3 separate regions of the Homo sapiens genome follow, and all the other regions are reported to be linked to region 2. The links are microRNA targets in miRTarBase. Many come from high-throughput screens and were not tested one by one. Region 2 holds a microRNA gene; each other region holds the end of a gene's coding sequence.
The links. The annotated mature microRNA hsa-miR-4319 reads UCCCUGAGCAAAGCCAC and lies in region 2 at 2,241-2,257, shown strand. An mRNA with a match to its seed (bases 2 to 7 or 8) in the 3' UTR can be bound and repressed. Matches are read on the target gene's strand: a 7mer-m8 pairs with bases 2 to 8, a 7mer-A1 pairs with bases 2 to 7 and ends in A, and an 8mer does both.

Region 1 (3,252 bases), not on the chromosome of region 2:
AGGCTGAGGTGGGAGGATCACTTGAGCCCGGGAGGTTGAGGCTGCAGTGAGCTGTGATCCTGCCACTGCACTCCAGCCTGAGTGACAGAGTGAGACCTGTCTCAAAAAAATAAATAAATAATAAAAATAAAAAGTAGCTAGCCGAGGAGTGAAGCCCGAGCTCAGGGTACAGGGTGGGGGTGCCCAGCTTGACAGAGCAGGTGGCGCGCTGGGAATTCCTGCTTCTCCCCACACGTGGCGGCAGCCTGGGGTCTCCTGACCCATCTGAAGTTCAGGCTGGCCACAGGCAAGCTCACAGAGATGGCTGGGGATAGCTAAGGCCTTCTGCAGTAGGGCGAGAAAGATCTGGGGGAAAGAAGAGCTCACGCTGAAAGCCCAAGGGTTAGAAGAAGACTGAGCGGGAGGTGGGGGTGGCACTGGAGGGGCTGCAGGTTTGGGGGCTGCCTCCCCTGAACTGAGTGCCTTGGGGCACAGGAGAGCCCTTCCCTAACTCAGCACATCCTCTTCCCCAGCTGTGGATGATGCCTGCATTTGGCATACACCCGGAGTTTGAGAACGGGCTAGAAAAGGATTTCTACGGCTACCAGATATGGTTCGCCATCGTCAACTTCGGCCTGCCTCTGGGGGTCTTCTACCGCATGCACTCTGTGGGAGGCCTGGTGGAGGTCTACCTGGGGGCCTGAGGCTGCCCACCCCCGGCAGAACCTCGAAGTGCCAAGGTGGGGAAGATGGTAGCCCAGAGTCTCTGAGCAGATGCCTCATTCTGAGGTGCCGAGACCAGCCTGAGGCTCTCAAGGCCTCCTGCTCCCCAGAGCCTCACTGAAGGGGAGGGCACTGCCTAGAGCCAGAGGCCAACAGCAGGGGCCTGGACACTGAGCTTCTGATGCCCACGGCCAGGCCTGGGCACATGCCTGCCCCCTGCCTTCCCACCACGATCCGCAAGCCAAGGGTGCACCCCAGGAGGCTGGCAGGGGCCCCCTCACGGCTACTCTGTGGGAGGGTCAGACCTACATGACCGAGTCTGGGGAGCTTGGCGAGGGGCACCCCTCTCCAGCCAGGACTCAGAGGTCTGCCCCCTGCTGCGAGAAGAGCACCTGGTCCAAGTGTGGCTCTGGACATCCTCAGAGCTCAGAGCTCCGAGCTAGGAGGCCAGCTCCTCTCCCCACACACCTGTCTCCTAATGAGCTCATTCATTGGCTGCCAGGCAGGGTTCAACAGCTCTCTCCTGCCGCATAAACCCTATTTGTTTAATGGATTGCATTCAGGCTCATGGCATTTGTTCCCAGGGACAGAACTGCTCCTCCGGACATGGTGGGAAGGAATGGTCCTTTTGAGTAGGGCTGTGGGGCTGGGACAGTCCTGCTTCCGGGCCAGGAGGGGTCTAACCCAGTTCTTCCTTGGTCTGATCCGGGGGAAGAGGTGGGAGAGACAAGTCCGGGCTCGTGTCTCTCCACCCCCACCCCTCCCCAGCACACCCTCTCTCTAGGACAGAGCCCCCGGTGACATTCTGCAGCGGGCTCACCATGCAGGCTGTGGCCCCTGGCTGCCGGTCCCAGGCCTGGCTCATCTCCTGAGCCATCAGGTAGGGCAGGAACGGAAGAGAAAGGGCAGGTGTGGCAGGCCATCCGTCTCCCTGAGCCCAGTGCAAACAGTGGGCTCTGCCTGGGACGAGGCCAGAGAGGGCAGCCCTGGCCCTGCAGGTGAGGCTCTGCCCTCCTCCTCACCCACCCCCACCGAAGTGAGTCACTAGCAAGCATAGCCCTCCCAGCGCTGTCTCAGTGGCTGCCTGGTGAGGCCCCATGGCCTCTCCTGTGGGCTCTTTCTCTGGGCAGCAACAGCCCAGGGGCCCAAACCCTAGGTGACAGGGTCTGATCCTGCTTTCCCACCCAAGAAAATAACAAATGCTGGTTCCCAGTCATGCACTGGGGGCCCTCTGGGGTGCAGAGTCCCCAGCTCCCCTGAAGACAAGAGCCACACCTGGCCCCTCGCCTCAACCACAGAGTCAGAATGTGGAGCAGGAGGTTTTATTGTAAAGAGGCCGATTGTACAGAGCAAAGATTGTTCTGACACGGGGGGCTGGGTGGTGGGACCCAGAGGCCAGAGCTGGGTGAAGGATGAGGGGTGGCATCGCCCCATCCAGGCAGTGGGCAGGGCAGGGAGGACTAAACGGCTGCCTCCCAGTTCCCTTCCCTGCCCCTCATTACTGGGTAAGAGGGAGCCAGGCTATTTCCATGGATCCAGGAGAATATAGCAGGAGACCCTCACCACCCCACACCATGCCCCAAGGATACGGGAGGTGCCCCAGTCTGGCTTTTGCAGTCGGCCAGCTCCCAGCCTCCTCGAGGAGCAGCCTGGCCACACCTTTTTCCCCTGGAGCCTGGAACAGCTGGCTTTGGGTTAGGAGGCTGGAAGCACCCCCTTACCCTGTCCAGGCACCTCAAGGGACAGCCCGTGGTTCCCTGGTCAAACCCCTTAGGGCACAGTGACCCATTGGCTTCTGCCTCTGGGGCTGGGTAGCACAGGAGTGGGTGGGCACTGAGGGGCCAGCACTGAGCCAGGTCTTAAAGAGGGAGTCCGAGTGTTGGGGGCAGTGGTCTCTGGTGGGGGCATAGCCCCAGAGATGGGGCTCCTGTGAGTCCAGCCTAGGGGTTGAGGGGGATCTGAGCCAGTTCACATTGTCCTGGCCACAGGGGTCTCTAGGGCATGACACTCAGGGCCACTCTGCCTGTTCCAGGCCCTGATCGTGGTAATTTAAAGCTCAGAATGGTGGATGGGGGAAGCCTCAGGGACCAAGGCCCTGCCTTCCCCTAGACTGAGCCCCTCGTCGGCTTCATCCTCACACCCGCTGTATCTCAAACAGCTTCACGTCGGTGTCGTACCAGACAGGGGGGTCCACATTCCTGTGGAGGAAATGGGGGGTTACCCAGGTGCTGGGGCACCTTGCAGACAAGGCACCAGGAGGAGCTGGGCAGCAGGAATGGCCAAGCCAACCCTTTCCATCCCGATGTCCCACCCTGGGCAGCGGGTGCCACCGTCAACCAGGCAAGGCCGCCTTAGTTGACTGTCTTGACATGAAGTCCACCATAGGTGGTGGGGCCCAGAGCTGAGGTCCCTGTTGAGCCCTGCTGGGCAGGCTCTCAGGTGGACACCACCCCACTCCCCGGGGCCCACCTCAGATAGATGACGCCCCACATGTAGGTGCGGAACCACATGGCAGTGCCCGAGTTGGCCTGGTACTTGCGGATGAGGATG
Region 2 (3,252 bases):
AAAACTACTTTAAAGTTCATATGCAACCAAAAAAGAGCCCGCATCGCCAAGTCAATCCTAAGCCAAAAGAACAAAGCTGGAGGCATCACACTACCTGACTTCAAACTATACTGCAAGGCTACAGTAACCAAAACAGCATGGGACTGGTACCAAAACAGAGATATAGACCAATGGAACAGGACAGAGCCCTCAGAAATAATGCCACATATCTACAACTATCTGATCTTTGACAAACCTGACAAAAATAAGAAATGGGGAAAGGATTCCCTATTTAATAAATGGTGCTGGGAAAACTGGCTAGCCATATGTAGAAAGCTGAAACTGGATCCCTTCCTTACACCTTATACAAAAATTAATTCAAGATGCATAAAGACTTAAATGTTAGACCTAAAACCATAAAAACCCTAGAAGAAAACCTAGGCAATACCATTCAGGACATAGGCACGGGCAAGGACTTCATGTCTAAAACACCAAAAGCAATGGCAACAAAAGCCAAAATTGACAAATGGGATCTAATTAAACTAAAGAGCTTCTGCACAGCAAAAGAAACTACCATCAGAGTGAACAGGCAACCTACAGAATGGGAGAAAATTTTTGCAATCTACTCATCTGACAAAGGGCTAATAGCCAGAATCTACAATGAACTCAAACAAATTTACAAGGAAAAAACAAACAACCCCATCAAAAAGTGGGCAAAGGATATGAACAGACACTTCTCAAAAGAAGATATTTATGCAGCCAAAAGACATGTGAAAAAATGCTCGTCATCACTGGTCATCAGAGAAATGCAAATCAAAACCACAGTGAGATACCATCTCACACCAGTTAGAATGGCGATCATTAAAAAGTCAGGAAACAACAGTTGCTGGAGAGGATGTGGAGAAATAGGAACACTTTTACACTGTTGGTGGGAGTGTAAACTAGTTCAACCATTGTGGAAGTCGGTGTGGCGATTCCTCAGGGATCTAGAACTAGAAATACCATTTGACCCAGCCATCCCATTTCTGGGTATATACCCAAAGGATTATAAAACATGCTGCTATAAAGACACATGCACACATATGTTTACTGTGGCACTAGTCACAATAGCAAAGACTTGGAACCAACCCAAATGTCCAACAATGATAGACTGGATTAAGAAAATGTGGCACATATACACCATGGAATACTATGCAGCCATAAAAAATGATGAGTTCGTGTCCTTTGTAGGGACATGGATGAAGCTGGAAACCATCATTCTGAGCAAACTATCACAAGGACAAAAAACCAAACACCGCATGTTCTCACTCATAGGTGGGAATTGAACAATGAGAATACATGGACACTGGAAGGGGAACATCACACACTGGGGCCTGTTGTGGGGTGGGGGAAGGGGAGAGGGGGGAGGCATAGCATTAGGAGATATACCTAATGTTAAATGAAGAGTTAATGGGTTGCAGCACACCAACATGGCACATGTATACATATGTAACAAACCTGCACGTTGTGCACATGTACCCTAATACTTAAAGTATAATTAAAAAAAAAAAGAAAAGAAAACAAGCCCAGCCGGGTGCGGTCGCTCAGGCCTGTAATCCCAGCACTTTGGGAGGCCGAGGCAGGTGGATCACTTGAGTTCAGGAGTTCGAGACCAGCCTGACCAACATGGTGAAACCCTGTCTCTACTAAAAATACAAAATTAGCTGGGTGTGGTGGCACGTGCCTGTAATCCCAGCTACTTGGAAGGCTGAGGCAGGAGAATCGTTTGAACCCAGGAAGTGGAGGTTGCAGTAAGCCGAGATCGCCCCATTTCACTGCAGCCTGGGGAACAAGAGCAACACTCTGTTCCAAAAAAAAAAGGCCTGTGCATTTGTAATTATACCAACAGTGATGTATTCTATTGAAAACCAACTAGAATCGTTGTAAACAAAATATGAAATAAAGGTTGGTATACTATAGGTGTTCAATACATTAATAATAATCATTAATAACCACTAACATTTATGGTATATTTTCTATGAGTCAGGCATTCTGCTACATATAGGTACATATGCTACAACTTTATAAGCAGACACACCCCGTGAGTTACTAACTACTATTATCTCTATTTTGGATTTGCAAACACAGGCAGAGGTTGTTTAAATCACTTGCACAAGGCTGCCTGGCTGGATCTCTTTGGTCAGTCTCTTTCTTTTCCCATTTCCTTTCGGTGATAACTCACTGTACTAAGTCAGAGCCCATCATCACCTTTTTGGCTTGAGTCCCTGAGCAAAGCCACTGGGAATGCTCCCTGAGGACGTTATATGAGTGCTCAGCTCATGGGGCTATGATGGTCAAAGGAGAAAATGCACATGAATGTATTTTGAAAAATATGTCACTATCACGGAGCAGCCAAAATAACCAGATAAGGAGAATTAGGATTCTTTGACTCAAGGGCAGCAATAGGTTCAGGACATCTGCTTGCCTATGTGACCTCAAGTGGACATTATTTGGGGTTTTTCCAGGTGCACCTACACCTAAGGCCACACTGCTCTGCCTGCTGCAACAAAGTTTAAGGGGAGTGTTGTGTAGGTGGAATGAGGAGGTCAGCTATACACAGAAGAGGAGGCAGTGCAAGAAGCGGTAGAGTTTGATCTTCAGAATCATTTCACTTTCCAAACAATCAGGAGGATGTTGTGAGGGGTTGGGTAAAACTTCCTCTAGGCACAGAGCTATTAAATCACAGCTTCCTGGAGTTGGTACTTGGTGTAGGAGGGACAGATGGGGTTTCACAAATAAAGTCAAACCTAGAACCTAGCCATGGAAGTGCGCCTGCTTTTCTTGGGGCTGTTTCTCTAGCATGCCCTCAGCAGAATCAACATGAAAGGTCCCAACCTAAAGTCCCTCCTTTATTTGCATAAGAATATCTCTAAATGCTGAGATTTATAACTTCACAGGAAAGGCTTGGGAAGGAGGGAAAAGCTTAAAAGAACATTCTGTGTAGAGTTATGATGCTGCCAACAGTTCGTGGGTTGGACAGGGCACTGCGTTCCTAAAGATTAGACATAACTGAGGGCTTTTTCTTCTTTTTTAATAACAAGGAAATACAAATCCTCCCCTCTTGTCAGACTCTCAATTCTTCAGACGTTTTGTATCATTTTCCCCATTCAAGAGTAGCATTGAACTGAAGGGAAATTAGAAAAACTGCAGCTTTCTTCCCCCGCCTTGAAACCAAAGGAATGTAAAGATATCGAGTTTAGCTTTCTAATTACATTTCTGAGACTTCTATTTTTT
Region 3 (3,252 bases), not on the chromosome of region 2:
CCTCTTCTAGCCACAGGTGCCCTGTGCATGTTGCCCACAGCTATGGAGCCTCCACTCTACCCCTGAGCTACTTATCACTGACACTACTGCCACTTCTGACACCACAAATGTGGACCCCCTTAATCAATCCAAACCTCATTTCCTGTCCTTCACCCTTGAGATTAGACTCCACACTTGTTTCTGCCCCAAGTTGTCTCTTCATAACCCTTAGGGCTCCCGTGAAGCTGGAGTTCACCCTGCCATATTCCACAGCCCTACATTCCCATGTCTGCTTTGGAGGGGTCCGGAGGTCTCAGAATGGGGGGGTTGGGACATTTATATCAGTACTCTACCACAACCCTGGGATCTATCTGTGGTGGGGAATGATTCAGCCTGTACTGAGGGAGAGGAGAGCGGAAAACTGGCAGGATTTTCTACTTCATTCCACAGGGATCACTTACAGGTGCCCTCTCCCCCAACAGCCAGAAAGGGAAAACAGAGCCGAGTTTGGCCACTGGGGCCTCCACAGCCCTCTGGAAGAAGGGGCTGACTGATAGGAAGGCACTCCTCTGGTGTTCACTGGCCAGACCCCTGTGGGCTCAGAAGACTACCTAGACCCCATGAAGAAAGACTCTAGACACATTTTTATAATCAGAAACTTACAGTTTATTGTGAATAAACCACTCAACTTTGAGCAGATGACATTGCCTCAATTAACTTTTTCGTTGAAGAAAAACAAAGATATATGGTAAATTCATGAAAATACTGTGTCCTTTCTCTTCCACCCTTTGTAGGGCAGAAAAATTCTGCCTGACCTTTCCCATCTTCCTGATGATGTTAACAAACGACAGCCACTGAGGGCACAGGAGGGGGCTCTACACAGGCCAAGAGCTACAGGCTACAGTCTGAGCACAGAAAACCCTCCAGCTCCAGCATCCAGGGCCACAGCTGGACACAAGTACAGAACCTGGCAGCCCTGCAGCCCAGACAATGCCCAGGGTGTGATTTAGGGTGCAGAGCTGCAACTCAGATCCTGTGCCATGGCAGTATCACAGGAAGGACTTGACGGAGAGGTGAAGGCTCCAGACGCCAGGATATTTATTCCCTGTGCCAATACAGCATTCACACCTGACCTCCAGGTCCTGCAGCAGGTACTCTCCTCATTCACAGTTAGCTCCCCACTGTTCCATTCTGGGTTCATTTGCTATACTCCTAATCTGTTCTCCCAATCCACCCCACAGTCTCTCCCTTGCTGGGGACAACACAGGAAGAGACAAAACCTGAGGAAGGAAAAAGGGAACCTGCAACCAGCCATGGACCTCATGATCCCATGAGTCACAGCTATCCTCTGTCTTTAAGAATGACTGTTTTATAGCTTACATGGTACCTGGGAAATTGCTGACTTGCAGCTGAAATGTATGAATACCAAAGAATTTCTATCACAATATTCACAGATCTCTGTATCAGCTCTACTTGGAGGTCAAGCAGGCTTGGGAGAGTATAGACTGCTCTGCCTGCCCTAGAGTGGAAGCATTGAACAAAGCCACAAAAACCCCAGAGATCACAGATCTAACTTTTCAATGGCCCACAGGACCAGGTTCAGGACAGGTAGGACACCAGGCAAACCACTTGTTCCCTTGCGCTTCATTGTGCAAAAGCTGGTCTGTTCCTCTGGCCAGACCCTCCTTAGTACAGGATCTCGGACCACAAACCAAGGAGTCTCGTGGCCTTGGATTCCCAGACCCTAGGATGGTATCCCTCTGACAGCTGGAACCAGGCAAGGGGGAACACACCTCAGCCTCAGAGCAGCCTCTGGACACTCTCCAGGTAACATGAAAATAACTTGTGCAAACACAGCCCCCATGCCAGAAAGTCCAGTGCCCTAGGAAGGGCTATCCTGAATTCTGACCCTGATGTTTGCCAAAGGAGAATGCAGCAAGACAGTGTCAGGTTTGGCCAAATGTGACCCTGCTCAGAGCTATACCACTTGAATACTGGCACAAAAGAAAGGACCAAGGTAAAGCAAATTTATTTGGGAGGAACAATTCCCTTCAAAAGTAGATCCCTATCTTTAGGAGACAAAAGGCAACACTGTGATGAACCCACACCCCCTAGTTTGGGGGGCCACAGGCCCAACCCCATTCTGCTGTGGGCTCTAGCCTCAGTAGCCAGATCCAGGTAAACCTCAGTTTCAAGAATAAAGGTGAGCCACAGACATGCAGCACCACCAGAGACAACAACACCCCGTGGCAAGAAGACCATGTTCTGGACTGTCTCCGTACTGCCACGGTAAGGCAGGAGGCATGCTGTGACCCCTTGTGCTCCATGCCCATTGCACAGGCCAGTTCAATTCCCTACCATCTGCCACCCATGCTCTTCTTTGGGACTACAACTCTGGCCAAACGTGAATATGGAAAGCAGAGGCCCAGGGCCCTCTTGCAGTACAGACATTTTGAGGTGGGTAGGCAGCATATGTTACATTCTAAGTAAAACAGCTAGAGGGTAAAACACTCCAATGCCAATTTATTTTCAAAAAGGGCTCTGTGTTATCCTATAGTTTGCCTTTTTTTTTTTTTTGTATAATTGTACAACCTTTGAAAGTTACATAAGTTGTAATGATCTAATACTATTAATAGCCATTCAGAAAACACTTTCCCTCCCTCCCAACAACCATCCAGGGGGAAATAAAAGTCCTGAAAAGAGGCCAGTTCAACATGGCCTCTACCCTGGTAGAAACAAAAAGTGAAAAGAGAAGAAAACAGAAATCAACTAAGAGGTGTTGCCAGTGTCTCTCAGGAGTGGGGCCCTGGCTGTTGCCTGGGGTCATGAAAGGCAGAGCCTGCAGCATGCAGTATGGCAGCCGGGAGACCTTGCAGCCACATCTTCCTCACCCCGGCACATCCACATCCCAACTTAGGTGTCATGGAAATCTTTCAGCAGGGTTCTCCTCCGCTGCTCCGCTATATGCATCTGGTTCTCCAAGTCCTGCATCAGAGAAACAAGGTGTGTGCTTGCATGGCCCAGGCCTGGGAGCAAGGAGTAGCCAAAGCCACAAACACCCTCCAGGACCTCCAAGGAGTCAAAAACACTGCCCTTCCCATTCTTAGCAGCAGCTACCAGTGCACAAGCCAACAACGCTGTCACCTATTACCATGCCAGTCCTCTACCTGCAATATAGAATCCAAGAGGACAGTAGGCACTTACCCCTCTGTCATAGCTGTCTGCACGCTCCACTTTCCATGAGAGGTTTTCGATCTCAGCCTCCAGCTGAGC

Region 1: the mRNA of HID1 is a reported target of hsa-miR-4319. The part of its 3' UTR that is shown has no 7-base or 8-base seed match.
Region 3: the mRNA of ARIH2 is a reported target of hsa-miR-4319. Seed matches in the 3' UTR shown: 7mer-m8 at 61-67.

What each region holds. Positions count from the first base shown.
Region 1 is chr17:74,948,734-74,951,985 of GRCh38, forward strand. HID1 (HID1 domain containing) reads right to left here. Exons shown (of 19, transcript NM_030630.3): 18 at 3,172-3,252; 19 at 2,009-2,900. The coding sequence ends at 2,837. OTOP3 (otopetrin 3) reads left to right here. Exons shown (of 7, transcript NM_001272005.2): 7 at 513-1,259. The coding sequence ends at 683. Among named protein-coding and RNA genes, the nearest start is that of OTOP3, 14 kb to the left of the region's middle. RefSeq lists an enhancer at 1,384-2,342.
Region 2 is chr18:44,969,145-44,972,396 of GRCh38, reverse strand. It overlaps MIR4319 (microRNA 4319), which reads left to right and starts at 2,231; the gene lies at 2,231-2,315. All of the region lies in intron 4 of SETBP1 (SET binding protein 1), which reads right to left.
Region 3 is chr3:48,982,911-48,986,162 of GRCh38, reverse strand. It overlaps ARIH2 (ariadne RBR E3 ubiquitin protein ligase 2), which reads right to left. Exons shown (of 16, transcript NM_006321.4): 15 at 3,184-3,252; 16 at 1-2,964. The coding sequence ends at 2,893. It overlaps LOC124909376 (a long non-coding RNA gene), which reads left to right. Exons shown (of 2, transcript XR_007095903.1): 2 at 430-678. Among named protein-coding and RNA genes, the nearest start is that of P4HTM, 5.7 kb to the left of the region's middle.